Homo sapiens: one gene and its partner. The protein of the gene in region 1 purifies or fractionates together with the protein of each later gene. This does not show direct contact. Each region holds a gene or a part of one and is shown on either strand. Other genes may lie near its edges.

Region 1 (3,933 bases):
TTTGTTGTAAATATGGGGGTCTTGCTATGTAGACCAAGCTGATCTCCAACACCTGAGCTCAGGTGATCCTTGCGCCTTGGCCTCTCTAAGTGCTAGAATCACAGGCGTGAGCCACCATCCCATGCCAACTAAAGTACATTTCTACACTGTTTCAAAAGTTCATCCTCATACAATGCCGAAATCTTCTCCTTTTAATTTCTGCCCATAGGTATAGTTTTAATGACAAATGAACTATTAAGTCATTAATGACTTAATGAACTATTAAGTCATTAAATGAGTAATTTAGTTTCTCTAAGATAAATTTCATTCCATGCTAAAAATTTAATATACTTCTATTACTCTACAAGTACAAAGTGTGAAGGCTTTTCACAATATCGTATAAGATATTCCTGCCTAGTTCACAAGTGTATCAGCAAAAGCCTTAAATTTTAAAGAGAAATCAAATATCAGTCCTTACCACTTAAAAACTATGTGAGATAAAGAGTTAACTCCTGAATAGGAAATAAAGAATTCCAAATGCTTACCTTCTAGCTCTTGGTTGTAAAATTCATATCTAAATTCCTAATAAAATACATTCTTATCTTGATACAACTCCAACCTTTCATTTTTTTAATACCATCCCTTTTTCTCAAGAATTGGCAAGTGGGAAGAAGAGGTTTCCACCGCAATTTATTGTTCATTATTTTTACATCTTCTTCGTGAAGACAATGCATGTATTTAAAACATCCTCAAACATTTAAAAGACATTATCGGGCATTACCACTTTAAATAACTGACACTGTACTAGCAAACTTATTAGTATAAACATCACTGAAATTCTTTCCTCTTACTTTTTTTTAAATAACACTGATGAACTAGTGGGAGCAATTTTCCTTCTTTGTGAAGCCTATGAGTGTCAGTTGCACCTCCAATAAAAGTACCATTGACAAATATTCTTGGAACCTGTTGGACAAACAAAAGAAGAATTAGGCTTTACTCTAGTATCAGAACTAAGATCATTTCACATAATAACGAGACATTTGAACTCTGGGTACTTTTATGAGCCTGGCACCACAAAGCTCTTTCACAAATTAAATCTTAAAATCTTTACCCTTTAAGGTAGGTATTATTTTTAGCCCTGTTTTGGAGGAAAATGAGGCACAGGAACTTGCACAAAATCACAATGATGGTACATGACAGACTGGGATTCAAATCCAAACAATCTGATTCTAAAACCTTTCTTCCTGATTACTAAAGCTTTAAATAAACTAAAGCAGATAAACAGTAATATTTAGTTATTTCTTACATTTGTTTACTGAAGGGAAAGAGTGCACTATAAACTTTCAATAAACTTGAAAGTGGCAACACTGTACATTTTTCTGATTATGCATATTATGGAAAAATCCAAATTTCAAGAATCTAAAAACATGGAGCACTAAAGCACTCCTATTAGAAAAGTAATTGAAGACCAACCCCTGTATTGCCCAGGTAAAGGGAGGAAGAATACTTTCATCTTGCCAAGAGCTCCAAGAGGAACTCAAAGATCCATAGACAAGCACTCATAATAACACTACTCATCAACCCCAGTCAAAACACACACACAGAATAAAAATAAAATAAATCAACTCTGCTGTTTCCTATTCTAAGAATCTGGTTCCTAGATCTGCAGCTGCTTTATCTATCCTCAGAGAATGTCTGGCTCATTTTCCTAACACAAGGTTCTAGGCTCTGGGTGATCTAGTTTACAACCTATTAAAGAGGAACAGCACCACAGAGGATATACTCACAGTTCTTTCACCAGTCATTTTGTAAAGAGCATCTTGGAACTGGTTTCCATATTCAAGCAGGTCCAGTTCCACCACTTTATAGTTAACATTCATGTCATGGAAAAGCTTTTTTGCCATTGTACAGTAAGAACAGGATGTTTTTGAGAAAATCACCACACAATTATCAGAAATTGTTTCCTGAAATAAAACCACAAAAAATCATTTTAATTCTAGACATTACCATTTGGAAATAAATTAAGATATAATGGAAAGGGTATGGATTTTGGTCTCTCATGATTCTGGGCTCAAACTAAGCATCATCTATTTTTTCTCATCTGCAGATTGAGGATATTTTTCATTTCAAAGCAATGTTATTAGAAAAAAGATATAACAAAAAGTGCCTGGCATAGAGCAATAACAATAAATAATAATTGTAGCCAATTCATATACAGCAACCATTTCTGTGTGCCAGGTACTATTCTCAACAATTTATCTTCACTGTGTTATTTAAACCTCACTACAATCCTGAGGTAGGTCCTATTATTGTCCCCACTTCACAGTTGAGGAAAGTGAGGTGCAGAGGAAGATCAACAATTTGTTCATGGTTCTCAGCTAATAGGTGGAAGAGCTGGGATTAGACCCAGGCAAATCTGGCTCTACAGTCCAGATATTTAATCTCCATTATACTCCTTTTTCAGCCGGGTACAGTGGCTCATACCTGTAATCCCAGCACTGTGGGAGGCTGAAGCAGGCAGATCACTTGAGGTAAGGAGTTCGAGACCAGCCTGGCCAAAATGGTGAAACTCCATCTCTACTAAAAACACAAAAGTTGCCAGGCATGGTGGCACATCCCTGTAATCCCAGCTACTCAGAAGGCTGAGGCAGGAGAATCACTTGAACCAGGGAGGTGGTTCCAGTGATTCTCCAGCCTGAGGAACACAGTAAGTGGACTCTGTCTCAAAACAAACAAACAAACAAACAAAAAAACCAAAACATTGTACATTTCTTTTTTTTGAGACAAAGTCTCACTGTGTCCCCCAGGCTGGAGTGCAGTGGTGGGATCTCAGCAACCTGCGCCTCCCAGGTTCAAGCGATTCTCATGCCTCAGCCTCCCGAGTAGTTAGGATTATAGGCACCTGCCACCACGGCCAGTTAATTTTTGTTTTTTAGTAGAGACGGGGTTTCACCATGTTGGCCAGGCTCGTCTCAAACTCCTGACCTCAGGTGATCCACCCGCCTCAGCCTCCCAAAGTGCTGGGATTACAGGTGTGAGCCACCGCGCCCAGCCCCAAAACATTATACTTCTTTTCAAATATTCAGTAGGTATTCAGGAGTTAACTCCTTACCTTCTATTCTATAACTTTCAATGGTAAGGAATGGTATATGATTTCTTCTTAAAATGTAAGGCTTACCCCTCTACTTCTATCCTTTCCTATATACCTTTATAGTACAAAAGCTGTCATTACTCTCTTGATAAGGTATTCTCATACTCTTAATTCAGGAAAAGCTACTTCCAGAAATGCTGATTCAATGAGTTTGAGGTAGAAGTTGAAAACTGTATGTTTAAAAAACCTCTCCATATAATGATGATATCAGCCTGGTTTGAAAACTACCTTCCAGGCCTTTACCACAATGGCTATGAGATTCTGCTATGCATCCACGCAGCCTATGAAGTTTTTCTTTTTGTTTTTTGTTTCTAAACATATGAATGCCTGGGACCTTCAAAAGATTTTGAATGGATAGATTTAGCACCCAGACATTTGTCTAGGTTTTTTTTTGTTTTGTTTTGTTTTTGTTTGAGACAGTCTTACTCTGTCGTCCAGGCTGGAGTACAAGGGTGCGATCTCAGCTCACTGCAGCCTTAACCTCCTGAGCTCAGGTGATTCTCCCACCTCAGCCTGCCAAGTGTCTGGGACTACAGACATGTGTCACCACACCTCGATATTTTTTGTAGAGACAGGGTTTCGCCATGTTGCCCAAGCTGGTGTTGAACTCCTAGGCTCAAGCAATCTACCTGCCTCGGCCTTCCAAAGTGCTGGGATTAAGACATGAGCCACTGTGCCCAGCCTGTCTAGTCTGTTCTTTTGTGGTGGATCATAAGCAGTACCTTCAAGATGAAGGCCAAAAACCAGAAAGTATAAGACCCATGCTTCAGAAGTTATACCCACCCTTGGGTGTCAGAAGGGTC
Region 2 (4,210 bases), on another chromosome or scaffold:
GCCACATATACGCAGGTTGTGTTTAGTCCCCAGACAATGCTTGGTGTGAACACAGACTCTTGGAACTCTTGTACAACTGGAGCTAATAATAATGATAATTACAGCTAGCATTTACTGAACTACACACTGGCTGTATGATAAGATCTGGCTCTGTGTTACCACCCAAATCTCATCTCAAATTGTAATTAACACATGTCAAGGGAGGGACCTGTGATCCCCATGTGTCAAGGAAGGGAGGTGACTGGACCATGGGGGCAGCTTCCCCCATGTTGTTCTGGTGACGGTGAGTGAGTTCTCACAAGATCTGTTTAGGAGTTCCTCCTTCCTCCTCCTCTCTCTCCTGCCGCCATGTAAAACGTGCCTGATTCCCCTTCCACCATGACTGTAAGTTTCCCAAGGCCTCCCCAGCCATGCAGAACTGTGAGTGAATTAAACCTCTTTCCATTATAAATTACCCAGTCATGGGTAGTATCTTTACAGCAGTATGAAACAGACTAATATACTCTTAAGTGCTCACATTTAATCTTATAATTACTCTCATTTTACACAAGATAATACAGGCAAAGAGAGGCTAACCAACTTGTCCAAGATTAAATAGCCAGTAGGTGGCAGAGCCTCAGAATGGAAATCTGAAGCCCACCTAGTTTTAGAATGTATGTTTTTAGTCAAAGCTCCATACCTCACAACACAGATCCTCCTCACTTGGGCTCAATCCAGTCTTTTTCACTAGCTATCCACCCCAAACATCACCATTTTCACACAGAGAACTACCTACTCAGCCTTTGCATGTGCAGTGCCTTCCACCTGGAGCACCTATCTCAAGTGCTGCTGTCATGCATCCAGTGCCTCCTCTCCTCTCTGAAGTCTGTGCTGAGGTGGAGGTGATGGGAACCAGGGCCTCCACGGTTCTTGTGCAATCTGCCCTTACTCTGCTCTTTCCACCAGCATTCATGCCTGTAAACACTGCCCATTTTCGCCTGAGGACAGGAACAAAGAATTTTTATGCCTCCAGCAAAACCAAAGGTATCTTGTACTCTGCTGGTGAACAACGTAGACTGCAAACCTATGGACCATAAGTCTGAGTCAGTCGAGCCATTTTGTTTGGTCATTATAGCATTTTCAAACACCAACAACATAATGGGAATGCCTTCCCCAGGGCACCCGATCCTGGTGTGGCATACTGCTGCTTGGTATTTTAGTGATGGGCAGCTCCAGGCTTGTAAGCTGTCCTGACCTAGTCATTAACTAACTCACTCATTACTCCCAATTACTTCTCTTCCCATCATTCTTTCACATATAGTAAATCTTAGCTGTAAACAATACCAAGAGAAATAAAAGGGCATAACAGATATATCATTTCATTTCTACAGATTGAAAAACTCCCTATATAATGTCAAAGGTGGAAATATCCCTAAAATTGAAACAACTTCGAATCACAGCAAAACTAAAATTTAAGAACTTCTAGAACAAAAGTCCCTTATCAGTGCTCACACTTCTAAGCAGGAAGGGGGCCCTAGCAGAGTTGGCCCAGCCTGGCACTGGGTCACTGCTGGCAGTCTCAACCCCAGTGACATCTGAGAAAAGGTCGGGGACCTTTGTTCAGGCAAGTTTACCTTTAAATTTCAACAGCAAAACCAGACATTTAGCGTTTGACTTATTTCTGTTTCACTTACAACACTGCTCAAGTTCAGGGAATAAGCACCAAAAATAGAAATGGAAAGGGACGCCTACTGAACATACCGTGCTTGACCACGACAAAACAAAGGGTACCACTCTTATTCCAAAGCTTTAGCTCTCTAGATTAGAGGAAGAGGACCAGTGCTTGTATTTACACATGCTGTGTAAAACCAAAGCAGCACTTAGCACACTATAAAGTAAGAACCACATTAATATTCATAAACTTTGGCAAGATGAGACAGGGGTCTGTTTTTTCCTTTTTTTTTTTTTTTGAGACGGAGTCTCGCTCTGTTGTCCAGGCTGGAGTGCAGTGGCGCGATCTCGGCTCACTGCAAGCTCCGCCTCCCGGGCTCATGCCACTCTCCTGCCTCAGCCTCCCGAGTAGCTGGGACTATAGGCGCCCACCACCATACCGGCTAATTTTTTGTATTTTTAGTAGAGAAGGGGTTTCACCATGTTAGCCAGGATGGTCTCGATCTCCTGACCTCGTGATCTTCCTGCCTCAGCCTCCCAAAGTGCTGGGATTACAGGCTTGAGCCACCATGTCTAGCCTTTTTTTTTTTTTTTTTTTTTTTTTGAGCTAGGATCTCGCTCTGTCACCCTGGCTGGGGTGCAGTGGTACGATCACGGCTCACTGCAACCTCAAATTTCTGGACTCAAGTAATCCTCCTGTCTAAGCCTCCTCATGTAGCTGGAATTACAGGCACATGCCACCATGCCCAGCTAATCGTTTTTTTCTTTTTAGAGACAGGATCTCACTATGTTGTCCAGGCTGGTCTCAAGCTCCTGTGCTCAAGCAATCCTCCCTCCTTGGCCTTCCAAAGTGTTGGGATTACAAGTGGAAGCCACTGTGTCCAGCCTAAGATTATTCTATTATGCTTACATATATAATCTTTATCTTGAGTCTTAATCTGGCATGAGGAATAAGCATCTTTACTTGTGAAAAAGAAATTTTTTTATTAAGTCAAAAGCCAGGAGTAGAAATATTTACATCTTAATAGGATTCAAAATAGAAAGCTAAACAACTATTAAATTAAAATACTCTACACCTACTTCTGGAATCTAAAAGAACATTTTTAAAAAGATACTCTACACCAACCATTTTCCACAAATAACAACTGTAGCTGAGTTACTAAATACTTGTATGCAAATTAAATTTTTGCTTTCTTAATCACATTTGAAAAGTAAAAGGGACCTAGCTGGAGGGAGAATTATTTTGTAAACAATGTGTTTTTTGTTTTTCAATGAAAACAACCTACATTTCCCAGGTATACTGGGATTTCTTAAAGGGATCACTTGCACAAAGCCAAAATCTACACAGAAAACAAATCGCCTTCTCTCTTACTCTGGTCTCTTTGCTGCACAGACGTACTAGACTTCACTCCAAGCTCACTTCGGCATAGAAATGTAGGCCATACAAGAAAGAAAGGAAATAATTTTTTTAACTTAATCCCAAATGTGATAGTAGAAAATAATTTTTAACTGTAAAAGGGAACAGATTAAATGTCATTGAGTAATACTTACTGCTGGTTCAACTTGACTTCTATCTGCAATATCTATATGGACAATTTCAACAGTTTTCCATGTGTTTGGATCTAAACCATGTACCTACCAATGACAAAGAGAAAAGAAACAAAACAAACTGTAGATTATTCTATTATGCTTACACATATAATCTTTATCTTGAGTCTCTCAGGGGACATTATAGGGAATTAAAAGACCCAAATTATTATTTCATTATATTAGCTGTCTGACATTTTGCAGGATCTAAAAGTCTTTTATTACCACTTATAACCCCAAATAATAAGGAAGGAGAGAATGAGGATGCTGCCAAATGAATAGAAACCTGTCAATATTATCTTCTGACAGTCCTCACAGATGATTTATGTAACTAAATATACGAGACCTATGCTTAATCCAAATGATACACAACAAAGTACTTGTAACCTTTGTAACCAACAAAGTCCTATACAAACATAAGGTGACATTACAAGTAGAATTCAAATGATGCACTGTATGGTCTAAAATCTCTCCAAAATTTGATTATCCTAAAGCTATTCAGTTTCAGTATGATGCCAACTCCTCTCTACTGCATGTTGATCAATCATTTATTTCTGAAATGCCATCTGTGAACTAATTAGGAATTGTTTGAAAACTGCCAAAGATATGCCCATTTAAAAGCTGAAAATATCAGATTAAGTCATACAGATTAATGCACACCAAATAATCTTATCTAGATTATAAATTATAGAGGATTACTAAGAAAAACAACATAAAGGCTGGGTGCAGTGGCTCACACCTGTAATCCTAGCACTTTGGGAGGCTGAGGCAGGCAGATTACCTGAGGTCAGGAGTTCAAGACCAGCCTGGCCAACATGGTGAAACTCCATCTCTACTGAAAATACAAAAGTTAGCCAGGCATGGTGGTGCATGCCTGCAGTCCCAGCTACTTGGGAGGCTGAGGCAGGAGAATTGCTTGAACCCAGGAGGCAGAGGTTGCACTGAGCAGACAGCACGTGATTGCACCCCAGCC

What was found. Proteins that work in one complex are often made in the same cells at the same time.
Region 2: the proteins of GLRX2 (region 1) and PITPNB fractionate together in Homo sapiens (co-fractionation; one large-scale study listed by BioGRID). This does not show direct contact.

What each region holds. Positions count from the first base shown.
Region 1 is NC_000001.11:193,095,818-193,099,750, forward strand, and holds the end of GLRX2 (glutaredoxin 2 isoform 2 precursor), read right to left. Parts: intron 1,944-3,933; coding exon 1,767-1,943; intron 943-1,766; coding exon 808-942; 3' UTR 653-807; downstream 1-652. UniProt on the Homo sapiens protein: Glutathione-dependent oxidoreductase that facilitates the maintenance of mitochondrial redox homeostasis upon induction of apoptosis by oxidative stress. Involved in response to hydrogen peroxide and regulation of apoptosis caused by oxidative stress.
Region 2 is NC_000022.11:27,891,354-27,895,563, forward strand, and holds part of PITPNB (phosphatidylinositol transfer protein beta isoform), read right to left. Parts: intron 3,286-4,210; coding exon 3,202-3,285; intron 978-3,201; coding exon of another isoform or gene 819-977; exon of another isoform or gene 776-818; intron 1-775. UniProt on the Homo sapiens protein: Catalyzes the transfer of phosphatidylinositol and phosphatidylcholine between membranes. Also catalyzes the transfer of sphingomyelin.